Linked DNA regions of Homo sapiens: all the other regions are linked to region 1. The links come from fine-mapping of genetic effects on gene expression. A gene starts in region 1. Each other region holds a variant in brackets. All regions are shown on one strand. Distances are between the middles of the regions. Region 1 holds the start of LPGAT1 (lysophosphatidylglycerol acyltransferase 1). Region 2 has its middle 58 kb from the start of MIR3122. Region 3 has its middle 20 kb from the start of NEK2-DT. Region 4 overlaps DTL (denticleless E3 ubiquitin protein ligase adapter). Region 5 has its middle 63 kb from the start of NEK2-DT. Region 6 overlaps DTL (denticleless E3 ubiquitin protein ligase adapter).

Evidence for each region. PIP is the estimated chance that this variant, and not a neighbour inherited with it, causes the effect.
Region 2: its variant is the best candidate, but not a certain one, in a credible set for the expression of LPGAT1 in whole blood (TOPMed, PIP 0.86).
Region 3: its variant is the best candidate, but not a certain one, in a credible set for the expression of LPGAT1 in lymphoblastoid cells (GENCORD, PIP 0.56).
Region 4: its variant is the best candidate, but not a certain one, in a credible set for the expression of LPGAT1 in whole blood (INTERVAL, PIP 0.67).
Region 5: its variant is the best candidate, but not a certain one, in a credible set for the expression of LPGAT1 in spinal cord (GTEx, PIP 0.54).
Region 6: its variant is the best candidate, but not a certain one, in a credible set for the expression of LPGAT1 in whole blood (INTERVAL, PIP 0.84).

Annotation. Positions count from the first base shown.
Region 1 is chr1:211,827,822-211,833,048 of GRCh38, forward strand. It overlaps LPGAT1 (lysophosphatidylglycerol acyltransferase 1), which reads right to left and starts at 2,942. Exons shown (of 8, transcript NM_014873.3): 1 at 2,752-2,942; 2 at 1,238-1,502. The coding sequence starts at 1,475. LPGAT1-AS1 (LPGAT1 antisense RNA 1) reads left to right here and starts at 3,140. Exons shown (of 6, transcript NR_135820.1): 1 at 3,140-3,219; 2 at 3,435-3,591. RefSeq lists a silencer at 2,367-3,126.
Region 2 is chr1:212,133,264-212,138,490 of GRCh38, forward strand. No RefSeq gene overlaps it. Among named protein-coding and RNA genes, the nearest start is that of MIR3122, 58 kb to the left of the region's middle. The variant C/A (reference allele first, on the strand shown) is at 2,251.
Region 3 is chr1:211,693,164-211,698,390 of GRCh38, forward strand. No RefSeq gene overlaps it. Among named protein-coding and RNA genes, the nearest start is that of NEK2-DT, 20 kb to the left of the region's middle. RefSeq lists an enhancer at 2,096-2,595. The variant T/C (reference allele first, on the strand shown) is at 3,118.
Region 4 is chr1:212,095,619-212,100,845 of GRCh38, forward strand. DTL (denticleless E3 ubiquitin protein ligase adapter) reads left to right here. Exons shown (of 15, transcript NM_016448.4): 14 at 4,634-5,227. It also overlaps the pseudogene RN7SKP98. Among named protein-coding and RNA genes, the nearest start is that of MIR3122, 21 kb to the left of the region's middle. The variant A/AT (reference allele first, on the strand shown) is at 1,971.
Region 5 is chr1:211,736,425-211,741,651 of GRCh38, forward strand. No RefSeq gene overlaps it. Among named protein-coding and RNA genes, the nearest start is that of NEK2-DT, 63 kb to the left of the region's middle. The variant CG/C (reference allele first, on the strand shown) is at 3,043.
Region 6 is chr1:212,043,096-212,048,322 of GRCh38, forward strand. DTL (denticleless E3 ubiquitin protein ligase adapter) reads left to right here. Exons shown (of 15, transcript NM_016448.4): 2 at 1-23; 3 at 1,565-1,663; 4 at 4,056-4,117; 5 at 4,202-4,322. Among named protein-coding and RNA genes, the nearest start is that of DTL, 10 kb to the left of the region's middle. The variant T/TTTG (reference allele first, on the strand shown) is at 2,829.

The DNA of each region.
Region 1 (5,227 bases):
AAGCAACGCATACACTATCCCAGGGGCTTCAGCTCTTGCATTATTATGCCACTGCCTGAAGGAGAAATAAATAAATAAATGCCACTGCCTGAAGGAGAAAAGGCTTCATCTGGGGCAACTGAGAATACTCAGACATAGCAAGGGTCTGTCAGACTCCATAAAAGCTGTATACTATCAGTCCTTCTCTTGCGTGTGTGGATAAAATGTGCAGGTGCAGCCTAGGCAGGAAAGAGGGAGACAGAATTTCAGATGGAGAACTGCCATACTGCTTGACCCTGGGAGTACCCCTCCTCACTCTGCCAAGCTATGAACTACAGCCTCTACTGACCACAGCATCTGCATGATCTTCAAGGAGCCTGCCTATCAGGTAGGAATTTCTGTGCTAAAAGCCTCCACATCTGACAAGTGCTAAAAACCTCTATGATTTTTTCATTATCTTAATTCTTAAGGGAAAAAAATCAAATAAATACAATAAACGATACAGAATTTTCACAGCAAGGGCATAAGTTCTCAAAGCATATAAGGTTTATCTCAGAAAATAAACACTTCTCATTTAGTTCTATAAAAGTCCACTTCTGAATAGTGTTACTCTTGCTTCCCCAAATGCAATTTAAAGGCAGAAATCACAATCTATTTAAAGACACTCAGAAGATAAATTAGCTTAACAAAGTTAACTTAATTTTTTATATTTAATACTCTCAGATTTATGAGATAAAATATAGATTCTAATAAACAAAAGAAACATACGTAAGAGAAAAGAAAGCCATTTTTGCTTGCTCAAAAGGCTAACAGTACAATATCACGTTAAATGATGAAGAAACTTATTAAACTATCTTAGCACAAATATGGTCCCATTCTTTTTCTAAATTTCCAATGTTTATGGGCATCTTCCATGAAATAGATGAAATATCTTACATCTTCACTTTATAAGCTCTCGAGTCCTATACAACGCACTCCTATTCCTCTACCAGAGCTTTTGCAGACCAGTTTTAATAAATGTATGTCAATCACAATAAAAACACTAAGAAATTTACCAATACATAATTATGAAATTATACTTCTGAAAACATTGGTCTTCCTGAGATTCTGAAGAGAAACCCAATAGAACTGTTTTCTTTTTATTTTTTTCAATAGTGAAGACATGAAAGCATCCTCAACCCAAAGTGTAATATACATTTAATCATGGTTCCTGACAAATTTTTTCTTATGCATTAAAGAAAAGTGTTCTCACTCTTACCTGTATATCCAGCATACCATCCCCAGGAAGCTACCATTCCTAAAAGCCATTTATACATGATTCCTTCGATATACCAGAACCGCTTACTGTCCAGCACTCGAAGGGGCTGAAGTATAATTACATAGCAGATGTAGGATGGAATAGCAACCAGGTTGTTGACGACCATGAAGGCAAACCTCATCAGTGCTTTCACCAAGAGCCAGCCCAGCCACGGAGCTTCTTCCAAAGTTATAGCCATTCTCACACTGGACTCCGTCCTGTCTTTCTGGGGTGAAAGAAAAATTCACTTAAAAAGGAAAATTCATTAAATACATCTAAACAGTCACCAACATAGAAATCGCCCCCAGCACAAAATAAAACAGCGAGGGTCGAAGCTTTCCGGGTGTAGTACCTCGGTGATCTCTCAGGGGAAATTCCAGAGGGGGACAGAGAGCGAGGGAGGAGGAGCCGCACAAGGTCAAGGGAGCTGTTCACCGAGGCACGAAGTATGTCACAATATATTTAGCAAATGATAACACAATTCCCATTCAGTAATCGGTGGCCGTCCCCGCACCGTGTCTCACTGCGGTCGTCTATTGGACTTAGAAAAATAGATCCACTCGCTTCAGACAACCTCAGGATCTCCAAACTGAAGACACAAGTGACATGACCGAAACAGGGTCCCCTCAATAAGATTTCCCAGATACTGAGGACCTCAGTCTCCTCACCACCACGATTCCTGCACACCGATGCATTCCTTTAAAAGGTCTCTGGCTCTAGCGAAGAGTTACCCTCAAAATTCTCATTTGTAGCAATAGGGTTTTTGTTTCCCTTTTTTTTTTAAGAAAAAAAATGGGGGGCCTAGAAAAAAAGCTTACAAGGTGAGAGGAAGAAAGTAGGGGGTTATAATGCGAAAAAGAGGAAGGACAGGAGTAGGGGGAAGGGAGCAAAAGCCAGAAAGAGGTAAAAGCCAAGGAACTGGGGATGAAGAGAATGAGATTTCCGACCAGAGGGCAAGGAAGCAGGGGATGATGAAAGGGGCAGAGAAGAGGCGACCGCAGCGCGGGGAGCCGGTGGAGCCTGCAGCGGTTTCCGCGGATGTGGAAGGGTCGTGGCGGCGGGCGCGGCCCGCGCGCCGGGCTCACCTCGGCGGGCGCGGACGGCGGGCGGCTGCGGAGAGCGGGGGCGGGTGTCCCCCGCCGAGGGGTCGCGGTCATGGACGCGGTGGCGGCCCAAGCGGCCCGAGGCGCTGCGCGAGCGGGCGCGCTGGCGCCCTACTCCCCTCGCGGCTGCCTGCGGACAGAGGGACGGCGGGGACTCAGAGGCCGGACCTGTCACCCGGGCGGGTCCCGGGGAGGCGGGCGGATGCCCCGCGCCCCCGCCTCCTCCCCGGGGCCTACCGCGCCCTCGTCCCTCAGGCCGCTGCCGCCTCCCCGGGCCACGCGACGACGACACCCCCTTCCCCGCCCCCAGCGCCTCCCCTGGCCCGGCTCCGCTGCCGCTCTGGGGCCTGCGACCGCGGAGCCGGAGGTTACCTCGGGCTGGCCGGGCCCCAGCCGGGGCTTTGGGAGTCAGAGGAGCCGGAAGAATGCATGGCCGGCGGCGGGGCCGGCGGAAGAAGGCGGTGGCGGGGCCCTGCCCCGCTCCGGCTGTGGCGCGGCCCGCGCCCGTTCCCCGGCGGCGCCGAGACTCGGTCCCCAAGGGCCCGGCCGCGTTCGCCCGGACTGGCGGGGAGGGGCGGCGGGAGGAAGCGGCGGGAGTCGGGACTGCGGCGGAGCCGCTCCCACAGCGCCCTCTAATGAAAGCGCCGCCGCCGCTGCCTGGCCCGCTTGCCCCGCCTGGCCCGCTCCCCCTACCCCTGCGCCAGCGAGTCGGGGCCCTCGGGGCTACCTGGACGCTCGGCCAGGACCTCAGTGAGTCCAGAACATACTGAGGGAAAGGGCCGCTCGGAAAGATCTAGGAATGAACACCCATCCTCACACCCCAGGAGTGCCTTGGTTTCAGTTGAGAGCCCCCTTTCAGCCAACACGGCCGCCTTTCATTGTTAGGGCTCTCTTCTCTGCCCAAACTAGGAACCTGTCTCCTTGACGGCTAAATGTCCACTTTTCATTCTTAATGAAACCCGGTTGCACTCATGGCTTTTCTTCTTAACCTCTGCAGTGTATTATTGTCTAGAGTTTCAAATTCATTCTTTTTACGGTCAAAAGTCTTGTTTCAGGAAAGCAGCTGGAACATTAATGGCAATTCCACTTTCCCATTCATCGCCCCCGCCCCCACCACCCCACCAAGAAACTCAGTGGGAATGAATGGTCTACACAGAGAAACTGAAATCTGGTTAGTCAAGAAGGAAAAAACAACCAAGTGCCTGGCATTAAGTAAGTACTCACCCGCCCGCCCTCCCCCGCCCGCCATAAAAAGAAAAACCGAAAAGACAAAAAACAGTGGCCATGGGAACTCCTAGACAGACCCCGTCACTTGGGATACTATAGCTGCATTCTGGTTCAAAGGCTGGACCACCTGAAGGAAAATAGAGAAATAGTCCATTGACCTACCCCCTTGAGCATTCTTAAATGATCTGCCTAAATTTTAGTTTTTAAAAATCCTGTTTATAAAACCTTATGTCCCTTAAGCACATTTGTAAATGGAGGGGATGGGGCAGGGCAGATTTCACACTCCCTAGGGAACTGCCATATTTGAATCAGAATGCCACCTATTCTGCCTATTTTGAAAATGTTCATCACAGCGTTTGCTCTGGACTCTCAACTTTCTCTAATTTCAGTTCCTCTTAGGTCCACAGGTGAAGGAAAGATATGCCCCATTCTATTCCTTGCATTCTCTCTTTATTGACAAGGTAGTAAGATCTTTAAATAAATCTCATGAGAGAGATAATATATATACTTTATTATTCAAAATATGTCATTATATTCTTCAGTAAGATAGGTGAGGTACATATTTATTTCCACAATCAAGAATAAACTCTAAGGATTCCATCTGGTCCATGCAATTCAGCTTTCCCACATGCTGCGTAAACGTTGGCTGACACCTGGAGAGAGATAACCTACAATGGGATTTACACGTGATTCCTGGATCAGGGACCATCTGCCAGAGGACCAGACACAGCAGCACTTGATGAAATGCAATTAGTACCAGGCCCAGAATTCATTTTCAGGCTCAGAAAAGAGCCAGAGGTTGGGCAGGACCTCTGGCTCTTTAGTGTACAAAAACAACACTTGAAGTGTCTACCAAAGAGACAGATTCTTCAGCATCATACCAGAACATTTTAATAATCTAGGTCCAGTGGACCTGAGAACCTGCTTTTTAAAAAGCGTCATAGGTGATTCTGATGCAAGTAGTATGCAGACCTTGCTTTAAGAAACCCTGACTTAGAGGTATTCTGAGATGATCACATTCTCTTCTAGACCCTTCATAATTTTAAATCATTTGATCATATGTGTTCTCATGTGTGTTAGTCAGCTAGAGCTGCCATAACAAAATACTGCAAACTGGGTGGCTTAAACAACAGAAACTTATTTTCTCGAAGTTCTGAAGGCCAAGATCAGAGATCAAAGTGTGGGGAGGTCTGGTTTCTTCTGAGGCCTGTCCCCTCGGCTTGCTGATCACCATCTCTCATTGCAGAATTCTGCCATTTCAGTACCTCCTTATGGAAGGAGTAGGGAATACCTAATCTCCTTGATCTTTTCAGATATCCTCATATTAACTGCTTCCAACCTCATTGGACTTTTCTTGAAACTCAACCAACAGTACAACACATTATGTTCCAGGTATAGATATGCCCTGGTTTTGTGCCAAGAGTGTAGGAGAGGGGTTATCTTCTTAACTTTCTGACCACAATATCAGTTTCAAGATAATTCAGCTGCTATAATAGATAAGAAACTGTTAGGGCTGACTTCTTAAGGGAACAATTTCAGATGATGCTTGTGTTTATTTCTTGCATTTCGAAGTTCGTTTTAGTTAGTTTTACCTTCCTCTTGCCTATACTACAATTTTTTT
Region 2 (5,227 bases), 310 kb after region 1:
CAAAATTAAAAAATAATGACAACATCAAAGGCTGGCAGGGATTTGGAGAAACTGGATCAGTCATACATTGCTGGTGCGAATGTGAAATGGTACAGAAACTCTGGAAAACAGTTTGGCAGTTTTTAATAAAACCAAATGTGCAATTACCATATGACCCAGCAAGTGTACTCCTGGGCATTTATCCCAGAGACATGAAGACTTATGTTCACAAAAAAACCTGTATACAAATGTTCATAGAAGCTTTATTCATAACAGCCAAAAAACTGGAGACAGCCCAGATGTCCTTCAGTGGGCGACTGGTTAAACAAACTGGTACATTCATACCATGGGATACTCAGCAATAAAAAGGAATGAACTATTGATGAATGCAACATCTTGGATGAATCTTCAGGCAATTATGCTGAATAAAAAGAGTCAATTCTGTACTGTATGGTTCCAACATTTCATAAAAATGCTTTTAAAAAGCTTAACATTGGGCCAGGCACAGTGGCTCATGCCTGCCATCCCAGCATTTTGGGAGGCCAAGGTGAGTGGATCACAAGGTCAGGAGTTTGAGACTGGCCTGACCAACATGATGAAACCCTGTCTCTACTACAAATACAAAAATTAGCCAGTCATGGTGGCACGCACCTATAATCCCAGCTACTCAGGAGGCTGAGGCCTGGGCGACAGAGCAAGACTTCATCTCAAAAAAAAAAGTTCAACATCACTTATCATTAGAAAAATGTAAATCAAAACCACAATGAAATACCATCTCACACCAGTCAGAATGGCTATTAAAAAGTCGAAAAATAGGCCACACACGGTGGCTCACGCCTGTAATCCCAGCACTTTGGGAGGCTGAGATGGGCAGATCACCTGAGGTCGGGAGTTCGAGACCAGCCTGACCAACATGGAGAAACCCCATCTCTACTAAAAATACAAAATTAGCCAGGCATGGTGGTGCATGACTGTAATCCCAGCTACTCGGGAGGCTGAGGCAGGAGAATTGCTTGAACCCAGGAGATGGACGTTACAGTGAGCCAAGATTGCACCATTGCACTCTAGACTGGGCAACAGAGTGAGACTCCATCTCAAAAAAAAAAAAAAAAAGAAAAAAAAGAGTAAAAAAGTAACAGATGCTGGCAAGATTGCAGAGAGCAGAGAAAAAGGAACAAATGCTTATACACTGTTCATGGTAGTGTAAATTAGTTCAACCATTGTGGAAAGCAATGTGGTGATTCCGCAAGGAGCTAGAAACAGAACTACCCTCCAACCCAGGAATCCCATTACTTGGTATATACCCAAAGGAACATAAAGCATTCTCACATGCACACGTATGTTCATTGCAGCACTGTTCACAATAGCAAAGACATGGAATCAACCCAAATGTCCATCATTGCTAGACTGGATAAAGAAAATGTGGTACATATACACCATGGAATACTATGTAGCCATAAAAAACAACAAGATCATTTCATTTGCAGGAACATGGATGAAGCTGGAAACCGTTATCCTTAGCAATGAATGCAGGAACAGAAAACCAAATACCACGTGTTCTCACTGATAAGTGAGAGCTAAATGATAAGAACTCATGGACGCAAAGAGGGGAACAAAAGACACTGAGGCCTACCTGAGGGTGGAGGGTGAGAGGAAGGAGAGGATCAGGAAAAATAACTAACAGGTTCTAGGCTTAATATCTGGTGACAAAATAATCTGTGCAACAAACCTCTGTGACATGAGTTTACCTATATAACAAGCCTGCACATGTACCCCTGAACTTAAAATAAAATTTTTTAAGTCTTTTCTAAAATATTTTTGAAATGACAAAATTGTAGAAATGGAGAACAGATTAGTGGTTGTCAAGGGTTAGGGACAGGGAAAGGGAGGGAGAGATGAGTGTGTTATAAAAGGCAAACACAGGGATCCTTGTGGGAAGGGAACTGTTCTGTACCTTGATGGCGGTGGTGGATATACAAGCCTACCATGTGATAAAATTTGATAGAACTAAACACATGCACACACACACATGAGTGCAAGTAAAACTGGAGCAATCTGAATAAGTTTGGGTAGTTGTATCAATGCCCATATCCTGGTTGTGATATTGTACTACAGTTTTGCAAGATGTTACCTTTGGGGGAAACTGGATAAAGGGTACGTGTAGTATTTCTTACAACTGCATGTGCATTTACAATTATCTCAAAAATAAAAGTTTAATTTTAAAACAACATATTCCACATTGATCTTCCAAATTTGAATTTGCCTTTCTTA[C/A]CAGTAGAGCCTCAGCCAACACCAGTATCCAGAGAACATTTGCTCCACTGACATGAGATTGAGTATAACCTTGGCTTGGACCAAGGGCCTTACTTTTCAGCAAAAGGTGTGTGGAAGTGGGCACGTGACCAAGGTATGCACTAGTTCTATCTCATACCCCAAAGCTACTGGCCTGATAGAGTGATGGAGTGGCTGCTTAAAGATGCAGCTGAAAAAAAAGCTATTAGAACTGATAAACAAATTCTGTAAAGTTGCAAGATACGAAATGAACCTGCAAAAATCAGTAGCATTTCTATATGCCAACAGTGAACAACCTGGAAAAGAAATCAAGAAAGTAATCCAATTTGCAATAGCTATGAATAAAATAAAATACCTAGGAATAAATTTAACCAAAGAAGTGAAAGATCCCTACAATGCAAACTATAAGACATTGATGCAAGAAATTGAAGAGGCCACAAGAAAAGGAAAGATATTCCATGTTCATGGATTGGAAGAATTAATGTTGTTAAAATGTTCATACTACCCAAAGCAATCTACAGATTTAATGAACTCTCTATATCTCTATCAAAATATCAATGACATTCTTCATAGAAAAAGGAAAAGCAATCCTAAAATTTATATGGAACCACAAAAGACCCTGAATAGCCAAAGCCATCCTGAGCAAAAAGAACAAAGTGGGAGGAATCACATTACCCAACTTCTTATACTATAGAACTATCATAACTAAAACAGCATGGTACTTGCATAAAACCAGACACATAGACCAATGGAACAGAGTAAAGAACCCAGAAATAAATCCATACATCTACAGTGAACTCAGTTTTGACAAAGGTGCCAAGAACATACATGGGGCAAAGGACAATATCTTCAATAAATGGTGCTGGGGAAATTGGATATCCATATGCAGGATGACACTATATCCCTGTCTGTCACTATATACAAAAATCAAATCAAAATTGATTAAAGACTTAAATCTGGCTAGGTGCAGTGGGTCACGCCTGTAATCCCAGCACTTTGGGAGGCCGAGGTGGGCGGAATTCCTGAGCTCAGGAGTTCGAGACCAGCCTGGGCAACACGGTGAAACCCCGTCTCTACTAAAATACAAAAAAAAATTAGCCGGGTGCTGCAGCGTGCGCCTGTAATCTCAGCTACTGGGGAGGCTGAGGCAGTAGGATCGCTTGAACCTAGGAGGCAGAGGTTGCAGTGAGCTGAGATTGTGCCACAGCACTCCAGCCTAGGCGACAGAGCAAGACTGTCTTAAAAAAAAAAAAAAAAAAAAAAGAGAGAGACTTAAATCTAATACCTCAAACTATGAAAATACTAAAAGAAAACATTGGGGAAACTCTCCAGGACAGTGGTCAGAGCAAAGATTTCTTAATACTCCAAAAGCACAGGCAACCAAAGCAAAAATGGACAAATGGGATTGCCTCAAATTAAAAACTTCTGCACAGGGCTGGTGTAGTGGCTCATGCCTGTAATCTCAGCACTTTGGGAGGCTAAGATGGAAGGATCACTTGAGGTCAGGAGTTCAAGACCAGCCTAGTCAACATAATGAGACCCCATCTCTAAAAAACAAAAAACAAATTAAAAAAAAACCACTTCTGCATGGCAAGGGAAACAATCAACAAAGTGAAGAGACAGCTCACAGAATGGAGAAAATATATGCAAACTATCCATCAGAGAAGGGATTAATAAGAATATATAAGGAGCTCAAACAACTCAATAGGGAAAAATCTAATAATCTAATTAAAAATAAGCAAAAGATCTAAATAGACCTTTCTTAAAAGAAACATATCAATGGCAAACAGATATATGAAAAGTTGCTCAACATGATTGATTATCAGAAAAATGCAAATAAAAACTACAGTGAGATATCATCTCATCCTGGTTCAAATGGCTTTTATCCAAAAGATGCAATAGGAATTTTTGGCAAGGATGTGGAGAAAAGGGAACCCTCGTACACTGTTGGTGGCAATGTAAATTAGTACAACCACTATGGAGAACAGTTTGGAGGTTCCTCAAAAAGTTAAAAATAGAACTACCATATGATCCAGGAATCCCACTGCTAAGTACACACCCAATAGAAAGGAAATCAGTATATTAAAGAGATATCTGCACTCCCATGTTTATTGCAGCACTATGCACAATAGCCAAGATTTGGAATCAACCTAAGTGTCCATCAACAGATGAATGGCTAAAGTAAATGTGGTACATATACATAATGGATTACTATTCGACCATAAAAAAGAATGAGATCCTGTCATTTGCAACAACATGGATGGAACTGGAGGACATTATGTTAAGTGAAATAAGCCAGGCAGAGAAAGACAAACTTCACATGTTCTCACTGATTTGTGGAAGCTAAAAATTAAAACAACTGAACTCATGGAGATAGAGAATAAAAGGGTGATTACCAGAAGCTGGGAAAGGTAGTGGGGAAAGTCGTGGCAGGAGGGGGAGAGGGAAATGATTGTTAATGGGTACAAAAATATGGTTAGAGACAATGAATAAGATCTAGTATTTGATAGCACAAGGTTACTACAGTCAGCAATAATTTGTTGTACATTTTAGATTAACTGAGTACAATTGGAATGTTCATAACACAAAGAAATGATGAATGCTTAAAGTGACAGTTACTCCATTTTTTAAAACCTTTCCTATGGTGCTGAGATAAATACCCCATTTATCCTGATGTGAATATTACACATTGTATGCTTGTTTCAAAATATCTCATGTGCCCCATAAATATATACTATGTATCCATAAAATTAAAAATTAAAAAACAATTTTAAAATGATGCAGCTGAGGTGCCAAATTGGAGTTGATATCCCACAAAGTTGAGGTGTCATCCTCTAGGGTATCATCCTAAATCAACAACCATGATATGACACTGTGTCCCCAGTGGGCAGAATACATAGGTCCAGCAACCAAGGTGTAGACCCACTTACCATCACTCCAGTGACCTCCTGGAGGAATA
Region 3 (5,227 bases), 130 kb before region 1:
ACCACAAAAACAGTCACTTGGTGGAGTTCAAATCACACAGAAAGAAATCCATTTAGTAAATTCCCAAAGTTGCAAACCGTGTGGACCTACCCAGAGTCACACCAGGACTGGACAGCCCCCACTGGATTATACTGGATATGTGGGCAAACAGCTTATGCCAGATTACCTGGCCAGTAGGCAGGTAGTTGTGTTATTAGCACTATTAAACCATCTTTCTTCCTACTGCCCACAAAAACAGGCGAACTCCTGGGCTTCCCTGTCTATGCTTCCCGCGAAAAGAGAAGCATAGCTATAGGAAATTGAAAAAATGATAAATGGCCCCCTGAGAGAATCATACAATATTATAGGCCTGCTACTTAGGCACAAGACAGCTCGTGAGGATACCGGACCCCCATTTACATGATCAACCGAATCATACGGTTACAAGCTGTCTTAAAAATAATCACTAGTAAAACCAGCAGAGCCTTGACTATTCTGGCCTGGCAAGAAACTCAGATGAGAAATGCTATCTATCAAAATAGATCAGCTCTCGACTACAGCTGAAGGAGAGGTCTGCAGGAAATTTAACCTTACTAATTGCTGCCTACACATAGATAATCAAGGGTAAGTAGTTGAAGACATAGTTAGAGATATGACAAAACTGGCACATGTGCCCGTACAAGTGTGGCATAGATTTGATCCTGGGGCCATGTTTGGAAAATGGTTCCCAGCACTAAGAGGATTTAAAACTCTTATAATAAGAGTTATAATAGTAATAGGAACCTGCTTACTGCTCCCTTGTTTGCTACCTGTACTTCTTCAAATGATAAAAAGCTTCATCACTACCTTAGTTCACCAAAATGCTTCAGCACAATGTACTATGTGAATCACTATCGATCTGTCTTGCAAGAAGACATGGGAAGTAAAAATGAAAGTGAGAACTCCCACTATTGAGTGAGATTCTCAAAGGGGGGGAATAAGGGAGGAGACCACCGCTCATATTGTCTTATGCCCAATTTCTGCCTCCAAAGAAAGAAAAAGTAAAAACTAAAAGACAGAAATGAAATCCACAAGCAGGCAGCCCGGCGCCACACCCTGGGCCTGGTAGTTAAAAATCGACCCCTGACCTAATTGGTTATGTTATCTATAGATTACAGACATTGGATAGAAAAGCACTGTGAAAATCCCTATCCTGTTTTGTTCCGATGTAATTACCGGTGCATGCAGCCCCCAGACACGTACCCCCCACTTGCTCAATCAATCATGCCCCTCTCATGTGCACCCCCTTAGAGTTGTGAGCCCTTAAAAGGGACAGAAATTGCTCACTCGGGGAGCTCGGCTCTTGAGACAGGAGTCTTGCCAATGCCCCCGGCCGAATAAACCCCTTCCTTCTTTAATTCAGAGTTTGAGGACTTTTGTCTGCGGCTCATCCTGCTACAGCATAAGCCGCCAAGCCCGACCATAAAACATGTTTTAAATTAGAAGATGTTCTTTGCACTTTTGTTTTTCTGGAGGAATGTCATGGTACACAGAGTGAAGACCTAACTTAAGGAGGCCTTGGAGCCTGTCAAGCATACAATGATTCAGGTCTGTACCGGGCTGTGGCACTGCCTTCACTCCCCTCCACCCTGGGCAGAGGCAGAGGGCAGGAGAATCTGGTGAGCTGAGGCCACATGTCCACCTGGTGTGGCTGGTGTGGTCCACACAGCTGGAATGATAAAAGCACCGCACTCATCCGTGCCAGGCCCGGTGCTACTCATGCTTCTCCTTCACTCTTCACCACATTCCCAGGACTGAAGCATTGGTTTATTCCCATTTTCCAAAAAAGGAAACTGAGGCTCATAGTGTTTAAGCCTCAAGCCTCAGGCCACCATGAATACTTCTCATCTGCAAAAGAGAACACCCAAATGTGCCCACCCACCCTACAGATTCTTGGAGGTCTGGCTCACTTATCTCCAAGAAAGCCCCCTCTGGACCATCCAGAAGCCACGAGATGGTAACAGTGCTTCCTCTGCAGGGGCTCTGATCGACCTTGGGTCTGCAAGGGGTAGCAGTCAGGGGTCACCTGAGCCTAGCTCAGTGGGTGTGCTCCTCACACTGCATGACCGCATGCTGTGGGTGGGCCTGTGCACATGTGTGTTTGTGCACACAGAGGAAACGAGTGTAGGCGGGGATCAAGGTCATTTTTACAAACAGAAAAGCTGCAGCATCTCCATAACTCAGCTTGTGGGCTAGACAGTCACCACAGAAAAAAGGAAGCCAGACCAAAACTGAACCACTGGACTACTGCAAGCCCGCCCCAGCAGGGAGCCAGTGCAGGACCCCTGTGAGAAATGGGAACTCTGTACTATCTTTATAGCTTTTCTATAAATCTAAAACTCTTCAAAAATAAAGCATTTATTAACAACAATGACAACAAAAGCATTGACTAAGCTCTGTGAACTGAGAATTTTGTTCTTTACCAAATGGGGATTTCTAACACATCTTTTCAAGTGGTTTGGCAGCATCTTGGAGCTTCCCATTGCTAACAGCGTGCTAATGACAACTGCCCTTAAAGGAGGCCTCCTGCAGAGCGCCCGCTGCCCCCGTGACCCTCCTCCAGCTGTCTGTGAGATAAGAGTAGTGATAACATAGCTGCTCTTGGAGGAGCATTGTGTGACGGCCAAGGCCCAGAGGCCCCGAAGAGGAGGCACTGTTACCATCTCTATTTTACAGATGAGGAAACCCAGGCTCTAGAGGGTGAGAAAATGCCAGAGCTGGACCTACAGTTCTGCCTGATTCCAAAGTTCAAATCTTAACCACTGCTAAAGAAATAAAGCGGTATATATACATATATACATATACACACACACACATACATACATACATACATATGTATATATATATATATACACACACATATACATGCATACATATATATATATATATATATATTTTTTTTTTAATTGAGACACGGTCTCACTCTGTTGCCCAGGCTGGAGTGCAATGGTGCAATCATAGTTCACTGCAGCCTCAAACTCCTATACTCAAGCAATCCTCCCACTTCAGCCTCCTGAATAATTGTGATCACAGGCACACACCACCATGCCCAGCTAACTTTTTATTTTATTTTATTTTTGTAGAGGCAGGCTCTCGTTA[T/C]GTTGCCCAGGCTGGACTCAAACTCGTGAGCTCAAGCAATGCTTCTACCTTGGCCTCTCAGAGTGCTGGGATTACAGGTGTGAGCCACCATGCCTGGCCTCATATATTTTATAAATATGAAGGCTCTCTGTACCTCATCCCAAAGGGTGTGGTTTATTACCATCTCTCAGGATTTTACACACTCAGGAAACCCACATACTTCGAGTTCTAGGAACCAAACCCATAGGCCAGAATATGGCTGCCCTCCAAAAAGTACTGTGTGCAGTCTTTGTTGTGAAGTGCCTTCTCAGGGTGGCCCCAAGGTTTTCCCAGACTCTTCCATATTGGTGAGGTTCTGTGTGTCTCCAGGGCTGTCAGAGCCCTCATGCCTCAGCCATCCCTGTAAGGGCAGGAGGACAGGCACAGACAGGTAGACACTGACTCCCTTTCTACCTAGGTCACATGGCACATGGCAGGGCAGACAGGACCACATCCAGACCAGGGCTGTGGTCACCAGGGAAGTCCATTAAACCACTGCATTATGTGACATTCTCTAGAAGGCACCTGGGCAGGGAGGCCAGGGCAACTTAGGTTTAGGGCCAGGTTAACTGCCATGGCTTTTGGGGAGAGAAAGTGACCTAAAATATATAGATACAGGAATTTAATACAAATATGACAGCACACACTTGAATATGATTTGTAGGTTCTGACAACTCAGATGAACCTGGCTTTTCATGAAATCAGCGCTAACCAAAGCGGGCATGTATAGCAATGGGAGCCCTTTCCTTCATCCCAACCTAGATCATTCCCTAATCCCTTTTCTATCCCATCCCACTCAGAACTCAGCTCTCAAGAAGCTCAGTTTCATGATGACCTTGAATTTAATCTACCTTCCCTCGGTGCTTTAAGAGTATTTTTTCTACACTAGATTGATTTACAATGCCTTGTTTGTTTCTTTGTAAGCATTCTTGAGCCTTTCTCAGGCGTCTATGTCAAGGCTTTACCTAAACTAATTGTATTGGGCCACAGCTGTGCACAGGGTAACCAAGAATTCTGGTCTCCCTGGGACCATCCCAGGTTTCAAGTCTGGGCAAACCTCTCAGCCCCAAGAAAACCAAGAGGGTTGGTCAGCTTAGCTATGAAGCTCCTCTTCAGAAGCCTTTCCAGCTGGTCATAGCTAGAGCAGTATTGTCAGTAAGTGGTGTAGACCCTCACATGTGGTCCTTGGAGAGCAACAAGGTGTCCCCTGGGAGCTTATTAGACATGCAGACTCTCAGGCCCCACCCGGCCCTGCTCATCAGAATCTGCTCTTCAGCACAGTCCCTGGGGGCTCCTATGCTTGTCACAGTGGAGAACAGCTGTGCTGGTGGGGAGACTTCCTGCTGAGAAACACAGTGTGGATGACATCTGCTTTTGAGGCACACTTCCAGGGGAGTCCCCCATTTGAACTTAGCCCAAAGCTTTTGGGAAGCCAGTAAAGCACTAGACTAGACCAATTTGAAACCATCCTAACTGGGGCAGAGATCAGTGATAGTCTCCAACAAGGCTCAGGAGGGCTGCAGGCATGTAGGGCACCCAGCAGAGCCCCCACACAGGCCTTTTCTCTCTGAGAATGCAAGGGAAAGAGAGGAATGGCCTCATATCTGCTCTAATTATACATACATATATATATATGTGTGTGTGTGTATCTCTATATATACACATTATATTATATATATACATTATATTTTTTATATGTGTGTGTATATATATATATATATATATATATGAAATTTTTTTTTTTTGAGACAAGATCTCAGTGTTGCCTAGGCTGGAGTGCTGTGGAGCAATCACAGCTCACTGCAGCCTTGACCTCCAGGCTCAAGCAATCCTCCCACCTCAGCCTCTCCAGTAGCTGGGACTACAGGCACTCGTTGCTAGGCCTGGCTAATTCGCTTTTATTTTTAGTAGCGACGGGGTCTCACCATGTTGCCCAGACTGGTCTCAAGCTCCAGAGCTCAAGTGATCCTCCTGCCTCAGCCTCCCAGAGTGCTGGGATTACAGGCGTGAGCCACTGCCACGGGCCTCTAATTTGCATATAATGACAAATGATTCACAGGTGTTGGCACCTTAACTATTGTTAGCTAGAAGT
Region 4 (5,227 bases), 270 kb after region 1:
AGCCACCGCACCCGGCCTGATTTTTGTTTTTAATTCTGTTTATATGGTGTATCACATGTATTGACTTGTGTATATTAAACTTTCCCTGCATCCCTGGTTTGAAATCCATTTGATCATGGTAGATTATCTTTTTGATATACTGTTGGATTTGGTTAGCTAGTATTTTGTTGAGGATTTTTGCATCTATGTTCATCAGGGATATTGGTCTGTAGTTTTCTTTTTTGTCATGTCCTTTCCTGGTTTTGGTATTAGAGTGATACTGGCTTCATAGGATGATTTAGGGAGTATTCCCTCTTTCTCTTTTGGAATGGTTTCAGTAAGATTGGTACCAGTTCTTCTTTGAATGTCTGATAGAATTCAGCAGTGAATCCATCTGGTCCTGGACTTTTTCTTCTTGGCAATTTTTTTATTACCATTTCAATCTAAGTGCTTGTTATTGGTCTGTTCAGAGTTCTTATTTCTTCCTGGTTTAATCTAGGAGGTTGTATATTTCCAGGAATTTATCCATCTCCTCTAGGTTTTCTAGTTTGTGAGCACAAATGTGTTCATAGTAGCCTTGAATGATCTTTTGTATTTCTGTGGTATTCGTTGTTAATATTTCCTGTTTCATTTCTAATTGAACTTATTTGGATCTTCTCTCTTCTTTTCTTGGTTAATCTCACTAATGGGCTATCAATTTTGTTTATCTTTTCAAAGAACCAGCTTTTTGTTTCATTTATCTTTTGTATTTTGTTGTTGTTGTTTCATTTTTATTAAGTTCTACTCTGGTCTTTGTTATATCTTTCCTCCTCCTGGGTTTGGGTTTGGTTTGTTCTTATTTCTCTAGTTCTTGAGGTGTGACCTTAGATTGTCAATTTGTGCTCTTTCAGACTTTTTGATGTAGGCACTTAATGCTGTGAACTTTCCTCTTAGCACTGCTTTTGCTGTATCTTAGAGGTTTTGTTAGGTTGTGTCACTTTTTTCATTCAGTTCAAAGAATTTTTTTAATTTCCAGCTTGATTTTGATTTCATTATTGACCCAAAGATCATTCAGGAGCGGATTATTTAATGTTGCATGGTTCTAAGAATTCCCTTTGGAGTTGACTTCCAATTTTATTCCACTATGGTCTGAGAGAGTACTTGATATAATTTTGATTTTCTTAAATTTATTGAGACTTGTTTTGTGGCCTATCATATGGTCTCTATCTTGGAGAATGTTCCATGAATGTTCTGATGAATAGAATGTATATTCTGCAGTTGTTGGGTAGAATGTTCTGTAAATACCTGTTAAGTCCATTTGTTCTAGGGTATAAGTCCATTGTTTCTATGTTGACTTACTGTATTGAAGTCCCCCACTATGAGATGAGATTCTATTTTTGTGTATTTCAAGGTTTTGCTCTAAGATTTAGAACTCCTTTTAGCAGTTTTTGTAAACTATGCTGGCTTGGTAGTGGCAAATTCTCTCAGCGTTTGAAAAAGACTTTCATCTTTTCTTCATTTATGAAGCTTAGTTTCACTGGATACAAAATTCTTGGCTGATAATTATTTTGTCAGCTAATAATTATTTAATAAGGCTAAAGATAAGACCTTTATCCCCTCTAGCTTGTAGAGTATCTGCTGTTAATCTGATAGGTTTTTCCTTTACAGGTTACCTGATGCTTTTGCCTCCCAGCTCTTAAGATTTTTTCCTTCATCTTGACTTTAGATAGCCTGATGACTGTGTGTCTAGGTGATGATCTTTTTGTGATGAATTTCCTGGGTGTTCTTTGAGCTTCTTGTATTTGGATGTCTAGATCTCGAGCAAGGCCAGAGAAGTTTTTATTCTTTTGCCTTTGTCTTTGTTGAATTGGGTTAATTCAAGAGCCTTGTCTTTGAGCTCCAAAATTCTTTCTTCTACTTGTTTGGTTCTATTGTTAAAACTTTCCAGTGTATTTTGCATTTCTCTAAATGTGTCTTTCATTTCCAGAAGTCATGATTGTTTTTTATTTATG[A/AT]TATCTATTTCTCTGGAGATTTTTTTCGTCTACATCCTGTTTTGTTTTATTTTTAAATTTAAGTTGGTTTTCATCTTTCTCTGGTGCTTCCTTGAGTAGCTTAATAATTGACCTTCTAAATTCTTTTCTGGCAATTCAAAGATTTATTATTGGTTTGGATCCATTGCTGGTAAGCTAGTATAATCTTTTAGGGGTGGTTATAGAACCTTGTTTTGTCATATTACCTGAATTGTTTTTCTGGTTCCTTCTCGTTTGGGTGGACTATGTCAGAAGAAAGATCTGGGACTCAATGTGTGCTGTTTAAATTCTTTTGTCCCACAGAGTGATCCCTTGGTGTGGTGCTCTCCCCCTTCCCTAGGGGTGGGGCTTTCTGAGAGCTGGACTGCAGTGATTGTTATTGCTCTTCTGGGTCGAGCCACCCAGCAGAGCTACTGGGTTCTAGGCTGGTACTGGAGAGTGTCTGCTAAGAGTCCTGTGATGTGATCTGTCTTCAGGTCTGTATGCCATGGATACTAGCACCTGCTCTAATGGAGGTGGTAGGAAAGGAGTGAAGTGGACTGTGTGAGAGTACTTGGTTGTAGTTTTATTTAGTGTACTGGTTGTCTTGAATGCTAGTTATACTAGCACTGAAGTTATTACATGGACAGACTCAGGACCTCTCTGGTTGGCCAAGATGTTACAGGCAGTAGAATTAGCTGTTATTTTCTGCTTTCTTGGAGCAGGGTTGTTCTGTTGAATTGCTGTAATGGCTTGAATTGGTTGGCCTCCAGCCAGGAGGTGGCACTTTCAAGAGAGTATCAACTGCAGTAGTATAGCGGGGGATATAAGCTTGCCTTACGGTTTCCTGGATAGGTTTTCGGGCTTCTCAGGCAATGAGCAGGGCCCCACGAGTTTTTGTCTTTTGTTTACGGCTACCAGGGCGGTTAGAGAAAGACCATCTGGTGGGGGCAGGGATAGTGTGTCTGAGCTCAGACTCCTTGGGCAGGGCTTGCTGTGGCCTCTGGGCGATGGGAGTGGTGGTTAACAGGCCAATGGAGTTACGTTCTAAGGGAGATTATGGCTGCCTCTGCTGCTTCATACACATCACCAGGGAAATAGGGGAAAGCCGGCAGTGACAGACCACAGCCAGCAAGGCCAGTCTCACTCCTGCAGTGCTTCCCCAACAGCCAACAGAACCAAATTTATATCCATGCCTCCAGTGCACAGGGTGGAGATCTTGCCCTAGACTACAAAACTCCCCGCCGAGAAAGCAAGCAGGGCTGTTAGGCCTTGTCCATCTGCCTGCCACAGCTTCTGTGCTCATATCTGCACTTCCTATTTGTCCCATCCCCCTGCAGATTCTGCCCAGGAAAATTCACGCTCAGTTGAAATCATTACAAAGTTCAGCTGAAAGTCTCCTTCTCCCTATGGTCCTTCCCCAATTCCATTGGCTGCCCTCTCCAAAGACCCCTGTGAGATAGTCAGAAATGGTTTCCCTGGGGACCAGGAGTGCCTACAGGGCTCTTCCTGCTGCTGCTTCTACTTTTATATTTTGTTTGGCTCTCTAAATTCATTTCAGTTCTCCTTCTCCCATGATCTGGATCCTCAGTGAGGATGTGTGCAGAAGTGGACTTTACCCCTCTCACACTGTTTTTTGTTTGTTTGTTTGTTTGTTTGTTTGTTTTGAAACGGAGTCTCGCTGTCAGGCAGGCTGGAGTGCAGTGCATGCGATCTTGGCTCACTGCAACTTCCACCTCCCAGGTTCAAGCAACTCTTCTGCCTCAGCCTCCTGAGTAGCTGGGACTACAGGTGCACACCACCATGCCTGGCTAATTTTTGTATTTTTAGTAGAGACAGGGTTTCACCATGTTGGCCAGGCTAGTGTTGAACTCCTGACCTCAAGTGATCCACCCACCTCGGCCTCCCATAGTGCTGGGATTACAGGCATGAGCCACCACACCCAGCCACCCTCTCACACTTTGGACCTTGAGAGCTTGTTTGGAGGTTCTAGCAGGGGAGCACATTTACTCGTATACCCTTGACTGAAGACCGATTCTCCTCTTATCAGGAATGGTTGTCCTCTTCGACCAAGCACACAGCTTCGGGAGCCCTCTCACACTTTGGGCACTCAATTTTTCTGCTGTCTTGTGGATTTTGCAGCAGCAAGCCACTTCTTTCAAAGGATCTGTTAATTCTTTTGTTTTTTCTGGTATGTTCCTGTGATAGTTCTTGGAGCCAAAGTTCACTATGTGAGTCTCCACATGCTGTTCTGTCTGTCTGAGTGGCAAATTAGTCCTGCCTCCTATCTGCCACTTTCCCCTTAAATCAGTCTCATTTTTGTAAAGAAAAAAGTTGAGATGTATAGTATGTATCACATGCACAAATATAGAAAGTATGCTAAACATGGTTTACGTAAGTGCTTTAAATTTTTTCTCTTTATGTTTTTCGGTATTTTGTCGATTTTTACAAGTATATATTTTATAATGGGATAGTTGGGAGGTTGGTGACTTGGAAAAGAGAAAGGAAAATGATAAAAGGGTGTGGTTGGAATCAAGTGATGTATACCTACTTACTGGCAAATTGACCCTTAGATGATTAGGTTAGCTATGATTTTTCTTGATGAGAATTTAGGGACTTTGTATGGCTTTCACTTCTGATCTTCATGATCCTCTCCTCTTTTTCAGTAACAGTAACGAGTAGCCAGAGTACTCCTGCCAAAGCCCCCAGGGCAAAGTGCAATCCATCCAATTCTTCCCCGTCATCCGCAGCTTGTGCCCCAAGCTGTGCTGGAGACCTCCCTCTTCCTTCAAATACTCCTACGTTCTCTATTAAAACCTCTCCTGCCAAGGCCCGGTCTCCCATCAACAGAAGAGGCTCTGTCTCCTCCGTCTCTCCCAAGCCACCTTCATCTTTCAAGATGTCGATTAGAAACTGGGTGACCCGAACACCTTCCTCATCACCACCCATCACTCCACCTGCTTCGGAGACCAAGATCATGTCTCCGAGAAAAGCCCTTATTCCTGTGAGCCAGAAGTCATCCCAAGCAGAGGCTTGCTCTGAGTCTAGAAATAGAGTAAAGAGGAGGCTAGACTCAAGCTGTCTGGAGAGTGTGAAACAAAAGTGTGTGAAGAGTTGTAACTGTGTGACTGAGCTTGATGGCCAAGTTGAAAATCTTCATTTGGATCTGTGCTGCCTTGCTGGTAACCAGGAAGACCTTAGTAAGGACTCTCTAGGTCCTACCAAATCAAGCAAAATTGAAGGAGCTGGTACCAGTATCT
Region 5 (5,227 bases), 91 kb before region 1:
GCCAGCCCATTTCTCAGAACAATGTGGGAGGCAACAAGGGCCTAGAAAGTGGTTTCGAGGAAATGTGGCCAAGAAAGAGGGCCTTGGGGATGGAAGAACTTGGCAAGGAGATCTGAGCTGGCCTGCTGGATCCAGAGCAGTGTCAGGCAGGCAGCCAGGTGGAGCCTGGATGCGAGCTGCTGCCCGGGCGACTGAGGATGGAGGCAGCACGAGTCTCCAGCATCCTTCTGCCAGCAGTGAAATGTGCTCTGAACCTTTCCCTGAGCTTTGTGCCTCCCTCTCTAGGCAGCCCCTAGGGATTAACCCCTGCCCCAAAGCCCTTCAGCATCGCCACAGCTAATCTCTGTGATGCCATCTGCACATGTCAACATGTGACTGTAATGGTGGCAGAGCTTGTGTCCCATCTCTAGGCCCCTTTCCAGTCTACCCAGTAGACACATTCTGCAAACACTAGCTGACTGATCCCACCCCTTTGTCCTGCTTTCTTGTGCAACCTGGTTGTGGTTCCATGGTGTGACTGCACAGTGGGTGGGAAAGGGGGCAGCTCAAATAATGGACAACTGCAGTCAGTGAGGAAAGGAAGGGCACGTGAATTCACAGAGCACCACAAATGTTATTTTGTTCACAGACCTTGCAGACCCCACCCCATGCTGCACTGGGAGGCTGGTTCCTCGGGAAGTCTGGTGGCCCCTGTGCAGATGTCTTAGGCGCCCCTGGCCATGTTCCCTTGGCTCAGTGTTCAGCTGCCCTGTGGCAGGTGGCTCCTGCTCCGTGGGACTCACGCTTACCCCAGGCAGCATCTTTCCCACACCTAGGGCCTTTCAGCTTCAGGCCTTGAGGCTTCTCTGGTGCCATGGGAGCCTTTTCCACCCACTGCAGGGGCAGCCCTTAACCACCGGGGGATGGTCGGTGGATGCCTGGTCTCCTGGCCTTCAGGGCACAGTTCTGGGATGCCTTGGCGGGCTGAGCTTCCACACCCTACAGTTTGCTACTCACATCTCCTCCTCTCTAAGAACATCTTGTGCAGTGCCTTGGCAGGAGGGACAACAAGGGGACATGGACCACCCCCAGGGGCCTGGCTCCTTCCCATTCCTCATTTCCTCCTTCGTGGTTCTCATGACAGGGCAGCCTTCATGAGGTGCCTGCGTTTTACTGCTCTTCTGTTGCCGACTTGAAATTCGTAATGCTCTTTGAACAGGGAGTCGCATTTTCATTTTGTACTGGGTCACACAGACAACGTAGCTGGTCCTGCCTGGTAGTTTGCTGCTTGGGGAGAGGCCTCTGTAAGTGATGAGAGCAAAATGAGACCTGTCCTCTGGCCAAGCTGAGCTCATTGTTTCTTCCCTCCTCTGAGCACAACAGAAACCCAGGCACAGTGGGAGCTTTTATCAGGGTCCCTGTGACAACGGCGCATGGAAGTTGGGGGCTGGGGGGAGACAGGCCTTAGGGGCCAGGGGGAGACAGGCCTTAGGGGCCAGCTGGTCCATCCCCCAACCAGAGTGGGTTTTCCCACCCAGCACCCTGGCACAGGCTCACCCAGCCTCTTTGTGAATTCTTCTAGTGACAAGAAAGGGCCTTTTTTTATTTTATTTTATTTTTTTATCGTGGACTCGAATTGTCATTGCCCCTCACTCTGGTGAAGTGTTACAAGGTTCTCCAAACCCTTCCATGAGGATTATCTCACTGGATTCTCACCACCCTCTCCTTGTGCAGCAGACATTTTCTAAAGAGTGGAAATTAAGGAAATTCCGGTAATTTTCAGATTAGCAGCCCTTGCACCTCCCACTCAGCCTTTTCCCTTCCTTCAACCAGCGATGGAAATCTCACCTAGGAAGCCTTTCAGCCTGTCAAAAAAGAAAAAATGCCTCCTAATTCCTTGTACTAAATTATTCCCTCCCCGCTCCACCCTGGGCTGTAGGTAATGTAATGTCTTTTTTCAGATGTCCTTCACTTTGAATAACAGTCAGAAAATGGCATGAGGTAGGCAGCCTTTTCATAGGCTTGTTAAATGTATTAGACCCCGGTGGAAAGATGGGAGAATAAAGGAGGATCACAGAGCCTCCCTCTCCTAGTGATGACGGTAGAGCACACACCTTTTAAAGTGCCAGTCAAGGAAAGAAACAGAGGCTTCTAAAAGGCTGTGGCTTTTACGCCACCCCCACCTGGAGGAAATACGCCCACCAAGAACATCCTGAGCACTTCACCAATACCTGTCAGTTAGGAAAGCGACTGCCAGAGGGGATGGGCAGGGACGGTACCCAGAGTGGAGGTCCCCACCAGCTTTAGCTTATGTCTTCCAGTGGGCTGCAGGGTTGAGGGGAAAAGCTGGAGCCCATGCCAGGAGCAACCCAGGCAGAGGAAGCCTCACCATGAGGCCCCCCTGGGGTACACTGGCAGACAGACACACACACTGAGCCTTGAGATGTCTGAGGCTGAGGCTGTGGCAGGAGCCCCTGGAAGGAGACACATGTGTCCACTCCCACAGGCCCAGTGCTCCTCCTGCTAATGCAGCTTACAGCAAACCCTCAGATCTTTACTTTCACTTGCTTCTTGTCTGTGGTTTGCAGATTCCTAGTACCTATGCTCTGCCCACCCATGCCTGCCCCTCCTCTCCTCCCACTCTCCCCTAACAGTAAATACCTTTCAAATGAGAAACCCTCTGAGCACCCCTGCTTGCTGGCACCCTCTGTGCTAGAATCTCCTGCTGCAGTCAGACAGGTACCTGGGCGGGGGGTGAAGGGGAGCTGGAGCTGGGCTGGTGAGGTAACCCTGCTGTCCTTCCTCTCCAAGGCCTAATAAAGAGGAAGACAGAGTCTGAGGCAATGCTTCCTGTGACACCAGGTTTCTGCATCCCTCAGACATCGCTCCAATGACAATTTCAATTATTATTCCTGATCGGACATGGCACAGATTCTGAAGGCTGGCTTTCAGTAATCAGCTGTTCCATTTCTCTGCCTCCAAGAAGAAATGCTTTATTAATTCCACATTCATTAACTCATTCATTCCCTTGCTTTTTCTAGCCATCCTTTGGGAAAACAAGGA[CG/C]GGTCTTCTTTATAATAAGCTAGCCCAGAACCACTCTGAATATCGTAATGCCTGAGCAGCCATCTCCATATCCATGAGTTGCTGTTTATGCCAAGCTTCCCACCAGATGATGGTTTGAAGTATTTCCAAATCTTCTCTAAGAGAACTGTTCCATAACCTCATCATGGCCCTGAAGCCTCTCTCTCTTGGAATTCCCAATTTCTGGTGTTACTCTGAAGTTCCGTGAATGGTGGGCTGGACAGCTTGTTGGATATTTGTCTGGGGAATCAAAGGCTCTTAGGGCCAGATGGGGCTTTGAAACATCACCTGCTTCTCATCTCCTCACCCCCACCCCCAGCAGGGCAGAGTTTCGAATACACACCTGCTAATCCAGCTTTGCCTCGTTTCTTTGTGCTCTACCATGATAACCTCAATAGCCATAAGCAATATCTTATTCTAATCTGCCCACTTCCTTCTGATACCCACTAAGAACTGAGCACCCAGAACTTACCACTGGAAGGTAAAGTGTCAATTCTCAAGATATAAACTTCTGAGACTTCTGCAACTAGAAAGGAGAAAGGTTTTCAAAATTACTTTCAATTTCCTGAAGCATTAGGACACTTTCAATGTAGTTTTATATTTAGAATCATATGAATTATACAGAGAACCGTGGGCTGGTGGACAGCTTCCAAATACTAGAAATTATATTTCCCTCCATTTTGATAATTAGTTCAAGGTCTTCACCACAAGTGACATCATGTCTCAGAAGCAAAAATAGGTCCCTATTAAGCCTATGTAATGTCTTGTCTAGTAGATCTGATTTCCTCTTTATGCCCCCGTCTCCTCACCTTCCTAATTGGCGCTCCAACCTCAAAGCTTTTTCTCACTGCTGTCTGGAGCCTTAGATATATTAAATATAGTCTGACTGTGTGGGGTTAGGGACTTGGCTATGCTGATTGCATGTGTCTAACTTAAAAACCAAGAGACCTAGGGCATGATAACAGCTCATTGCAGCCTCAATTCTCTCAGGCTCCAGTGATCCTCCTACTTCAGCTTCTCGAGTAGCTGGGACCACAGGTACACACCACCATGCCTGGCTAATTTTTTTTTTTTTTTAAGTAGACACGGGGTTTCACCATGTTGGCCAGGCTGATCTCCTGTCAGCCTGGTGTCAAACTCCTGGGCTCAAGTGATCCTCCTGCCTTGGCCTCCCAAAGTGCTGGGGTTATAGGCATGAGCCACTGCATTGGGTATGCATGGAACACATCACTTGCAGTTTAGGCACATCTCAATATGAGAATAACTTACATCCTCTGTTAAACCCAGTTGGGGTGAGATAAACACAGCCTCCTTACTGCACATTCAGTACAATGTGCCAGTGTCTTATGTGCTTCCTGTATATAATCTCACTTAATACTGAAAAGAAGTCTTGGCCAGGCATGGTGGCTCACGCCTGTAATCCTAGCACTTTGTGAGGCCAAGGTGGGCGGATCATGAGGTCAGGAGTTCAAGACCAGCCTGGCCAACATGGTGAAACCCCGTCTCTAATAAAAATACAAAAATTAGCCAGGTGTGGTGGTGCACACCTGAAGTCCCAGCTACTCAGGAGGCTGAGGCAGGAGAATCACTGAACCGGGACCCGGGAGGCAGAGGTTGCAGTGAGCCGAGATCACGCGGCTGCACTCTGGGCTGCAGAGTGAGACTCCGTCTCAGAAAAAAAAAAAAAAAGAAGTCTTTGAGCGTTTCCCATTTAACACATAAGGAGAGTGAGGTTGAGAGGATAAGAAACTTGCCAAAGGGCCAAGGTCGAATTGAAGTCCCCGGTTCTGCTGCTCCTGGGCTCCTACTTGGACAAGCCCTTAACACTTGATGGCGCCATGACAGAGGGATATTCGGGCACTAGTGGCCATCGTGGCCTAGAATTTATTACCTACTCTAGTTCCACACTAGAATTCAGAAAAGAAAGAAACTATTATGAGATTGAAATCTGTATCCCCTTTGGTCTAACATAAAAATGTTCTTTTTATCTTCTACTATATAGGGCAAAATTTTTAAAATGCACTTCACTTCCACATCCAAAAAAAAAAAATAATTAATTTCAGGGCTTTTTTCATGGTTAATTGTATCTCTGCAGCAGCTGAGAGGAACATTAATAAAAATTATCTTTTGGGGTTTTGGGATTATTAAAATTGAGGATAAGGATGT
Region 6 (5,227 bases), 220 kb after region 1:
TTTTGGATGTACCTTCTCTTCTGGTAAGAGAATTACTATCTAGGCAAGGCTTGGACAGAAATGATCTATTTCACACTTATAGGGAAAATATACTAGAGTATTTCCCTTTCAAAGAAAAGTAAATTAGGTGGATGTTAGAGTTTTTGTAAAAACTGTTATCTTCTGATTTATAAAATAGACTTTTCTTAATCTCTATACATCATTAGCATAACTATATTTCCTCTAAAGCATAGGACTATTATAGCACTATTTTTAAAAAATCAATATAAGGAAGGGGTTGCAAAGGTTCAGCTACTATGAAAACTGTTTTATCCAGTAGATACATACCCTTTGATCTGGTTGAATGTATCTTTCTGTGACTCATTGGGGAATATATGAACAGAAATAGAAGTACTTCAGCCAGGCTCAGTGGCTCACACCTAAAATCCCAGCACTTTAGGACGCCAAGGTAGGTCTGGGCACAGTGGCTCACACTTGTAATCCCCGAACTTTGGGAGGCCAAGGCGGGTGGATCACTTGAGGTCAGGAGTTCAAGGCAGCCTGGCCAACATGGTGAAATCCCATCTCTACTAAAATTGCAAAAAATCAGCTGGGCGTGGTGGCGCACCCCTGTAATCCCAGCTACTTGGGATGCTGAGACAAGAGACTCACTTGAACCTGAGAGGCAGAGGTTGCAGTGAGCCAAGATCGTGCCATTGCATTCTAGCCTGGGTGACAGTGAGACTTCATCTCCAAAAAAAAAAAAAAAAAAGAAATAGAAGTATTTGTCTCCACCCATAATAGTTTGAGAGGAAAGAAAAAGTTGTGACAAGGAAATTTAAAACTAATAGACTCCTTATAAAAATTAGCCGGGCATGGTGGTGCATGCCTGTAGTCCCAGCTACTGGGGAGGCTGATGCAAGAGAATCGCTTGAACCTGGGAGGCGGAAGTTGCAGTGAGCTGAGATCACGCCACTGCATTCCTGCCTAGGTGACATAGCGAGACTGTCTCTCAAAAACTAATAGACTATTACATAGTCATGATTGTGGTAAAAATAAGTAAATAAAAATATGGTTAAAAAAACTAATAGACTCAGCCTGCTGGCAGCCTACATCATCATATGCCTTTGTTTGCCATTGGCCAGTACCACTCTTGTTTTAAGTACTACCCTCGATTTAGCCCTTCTCTAAATAAGAGATTATCTGAAGAAAATTTTGGTGGTTTTGAGTAAGCTTAAAAATTTTTGTAGCTAGGCATGGTGGCTCACGCCTGTAATCCCAGCACTTTGGGAGGCTGAGGTGGGTGGATCACTTGAGGTCAGGAGTTCGAGAGCAGCCTGACCAGCATGGTGAAACCCCATCTCTAGTAAAAATACAAAATTAGCTGGGCGTGGTGGCGCATGCCTGTAATCCCACCTACTTGGGATGCTGAGGCAGGAGAATCACTTGAACCCAGGAGGTGGAGGTTGCAGTGAGCCAAACTGCACTATTGCACTCCAGTCTGGGTGACAGAGCAAGACTCCGTCTGAAAAAAAAAAAAAAAATTGTGTTACTCTATATATTTTTTTCTTTATTTCTGCTTTAGCTCCCAATATGGAACATGTACTAGCAGTTGCCAATGAAGAAGGCTTTGTTCGATTGTATAACACAGAATCACAAAGTTTCAGAAAGAAGTGCTTCAAAGGTAAGTCTAGGTCTACAATTTTTGTTTTAACATTTAAAAAACTTTACACATCCTCAAGTATATTATTATTTGAACACATTCTGTTTTAGTCTGTCTTCTGTTGCTATAAAGGAATAACTGAGACTGGGTAGTTTATATAGAAAAAGTTTACTTGGTGTGTGATTCTGCTGGCTAGAATAGTAGACATCTGGTGAAGGCCTCAGGCTGCCCCCACTCCTGGCAGAAGGCAAAGAGGAGCCCATGAATACAGAGGTCACATGGCAAGAGAAGGGTGTACTACCAAGCTCTTTTTTAACAATCAGCTCTCCAGGGAACTAATAGAGTGAGAACTCACTCATCTTTTCACCTCTTAGGGAGGGCGTTAATCTGTTCATGAGGGATCCACCCCCATGACCCAAATGCCTCCCATTAGGTCCCACTTCCAACTTTGGGGATTAAATTATAACATGAGATTTGGGAAGGGACAAACATCTGTAGTATATATAACACATTCCCAATGATATTAACTTCTGATTAAGTCTTTTTAGGGACCAGATTAGATGTGAATGGTGGACTGCCTATCTGTCAATAACTGTTAACTGTGACAATGCCTTTACTCAAAGTTAAGAAAAATACTTTTTAGGATTAAAAACAATTCTTCAAAAAGTTAAATCTTTAACACTTAATGTGATTAGAGAAGTGTTGCTTTAAAATACTTATATTAATCAAGCATTTTTCATGTTTAAAGCAAAGTTCTAACCTTAAGAAGCTGATAATTTGGAACCCATAAGTCAAGTGTTGAAATAACTGAAATAAAACAAAGACTATAAATGATGTAGAAGTAGAAAGAAAACACACTGGTGTCAAAGAGAAAGCTCTCATGTAGTAAAGAAGGCTAGGAAAACTTACGAAGCATGGGGCATTTGAGTTGGATTATGGTATTTAGACCAGTGGAAATGGAAGGGGGCACTCCAGGTGACGGGAAAAGCATTAGCAAAGGTCTAGAGATAGAAAAGCATAGGATATAATAGGAAGTGACCAATTTGTTTGGAATAAGGTATCGAGAACAGTGAGAGATGAGGCTTGCAACCAAGATAAAGACTAAAGAATGCAAAATGTTGAATGTCAAACTAAAGTATTTTACATTCCATTCAGAGAGCATCATGAAGTTCTTTTTGTTTTTGGT[T/TTTG]TTGTTGTTGTTGTTGTTGTTGTTGTTGTATTTTTGGTAGAGATGGGGTTTCACCACATTAGCCAGGCTGGTTAACTCCTGGCCTCAAGTGATCTGCCTGTCTTGGCCTCCCAAAGTGCTGGGATTACAGGTGTTAGCCACTGTGCCCAGCCAGTATCATGAAGATTTTTGAACTGGAATATATTTCAGAAAGATTCCATTGTAGAGAATATATTACTAGTGAACTCATGGAAAGGAATTTGACATCAGATGGTAGTAGTTCTCATGTGGTAATTAAGGGAATGTGTAATTTCTGTGAGTCCACAAATTCTCTTTGCTCATGCCAAAGGGTGCTGACTACTGATTTTTTATGTGTGCATCTTTATTTTTATTATTTTAAGTTCCAGGGTACATGTGCAGGACATGCAGGTTTGTTACGTAGGTAAACATGTGCCGTGGTGGTTTGCTGCACATACCAACCCATCACCTAGGTATTAAGCCCAGCATGCATTAGCTATTTTTCCTGATGTTCTCCCTCTCCATGCTCCCCCTCAAGAGGCCCCAGTGTGTGTTGTTCCCCTCCCTGTGTCCATGTGTTCTCGTTGTTCAGCTCCCACTTATGAGTGAGAACATACGGTGTTTGGTTTTCTGTTTGTGCATTAGTTTGCTGAGGATAATGACTTCCAGCTCCATCCATGTCCCTGCAAAGGACATGATCTCATTCCTCTTATGGCTGCATTGTATTCCACAGTGTATATGTACCACATTTTCTTTATCCAATCTATCATTGATGGGCATTTGGGTTGATTCCATGTCTTTGCCATTGTGAATAATGCTGCAGTGAACATATGCATGCATGTATCTTTATAATAGAATGATTTATGTTCCTTTGGGTATATACCCAGTAATGGGATTGCTGGGTCAAATGGTATTTCTGGTTCTAGGTCTTTGAGGAAGCGCCACACTGTCTTCCACAACGGTTGAATTAATTTACATTCCCACCAACAGTGTAAAACTGTTGCTATCTCTCCGCAGCCTTGCCAGCATCTGTTGTTTCTTGACTTTTTAAATAATTGCCATTCTGACTGACGTGAAATGATATCTCATTGTGGTTTTGATTTGCATTTCTCTAATGATCAACTACTGATCTTTTTACTACTACAGCTTTCCAGGCATTTAAAGTTATATTAATATGGGTACCACAGAATACAATTTAGACATTTCACATTTACCATTTTCTTTGTTTAGAATGGATGGCTCACTGGAATGCCGTCTTTGACCTGGCCTGGGTTCCTGGTGAACTTAAACTTGTAAGTGACTTTATTTCATTAGGATCTGGGTAAATACTGATAAGGGAGTGCTTTATTAAATTGTGTTTACCTTATTTTTGAAAGGTTACAGCAGCAGGTGATCAAACAGCCAAATTTTGGGACGTAAAAGCTGGTGAGCTGATTGGAACATGCAAAGGTCATCAATGCAGCCTCAAGTCAGTTGCCTTTTCTAAGTTTGAGAAAGGTAGGTTTGTGCTTATCTTCTTTCATCTCCTTAACCTTCTTTGCAGTTGGGAGATAAGAACCTGTAATTGTTTCTACCCTTTCCCCTGTCAAAGTTACTGCTTTACCTACATAGATGATTAAGATTCTTTTTTTGGAGACAGTTTCGTTCTGTTGCCCAGGCTGGAGTGCAGTGGCGCCATCTCGGCTCACTGCTACCTCCGCTGCCTCCCAGGTTCAAGTGATTCTCCTGCGTCAGCCTCCGGAGTAGCTGGGACTACAGGCGCACATCACCATGCCCAGCTAATTTTTGTATTTTTAGTAGAGACGGGGTTTCACCATGTTGGCCAGGCTGGTCTAGAACTCCTGAGCTCAGGCAATCCACCTGCCTCAGCCTCCCAAAGTGCTAGGATCACAGGCGTGAGCCGCTGCACCCAGCCAGGTGATTAAGATTCTAACATGACTGAAAACCTTAATAAAATTAAATTGGTTTTAGGCCCACTCTTCTGGACATTATCTCTAGCTTGTCCCTGAAAGTCAAGAGTCTTTGATAAGTTTTTCTGTAATCTTGCACATAAGGTAAAGATTTATAAACAGCTACAATACCATTGTTCAACCTTGATTGTTCATTGAAGTTAAAACCTTGTACTGGGCACTCATTAACTATTTGTAAAACAGAGTTACTTTAACTCTGCTTGTAAAATCTAAATGAGCTATAAGGCTGATAAACAACATAATTTTTTTCTACCTAAAAATTTATCATGTATTTGGTTTAAATGGCCTGTTTTTTGTTTTTTGTTTGTTTGTTTGTTTTTTGAGACGGAGTCTCTGTCACCCAGGCTGGAGTGCAGAGGCTCGATCTCAGCTCACTGCAGCCTCCATCCCCCGGGTTCAAGCAATCCTCTCCCTCAGCGTCCCAAGTACCTG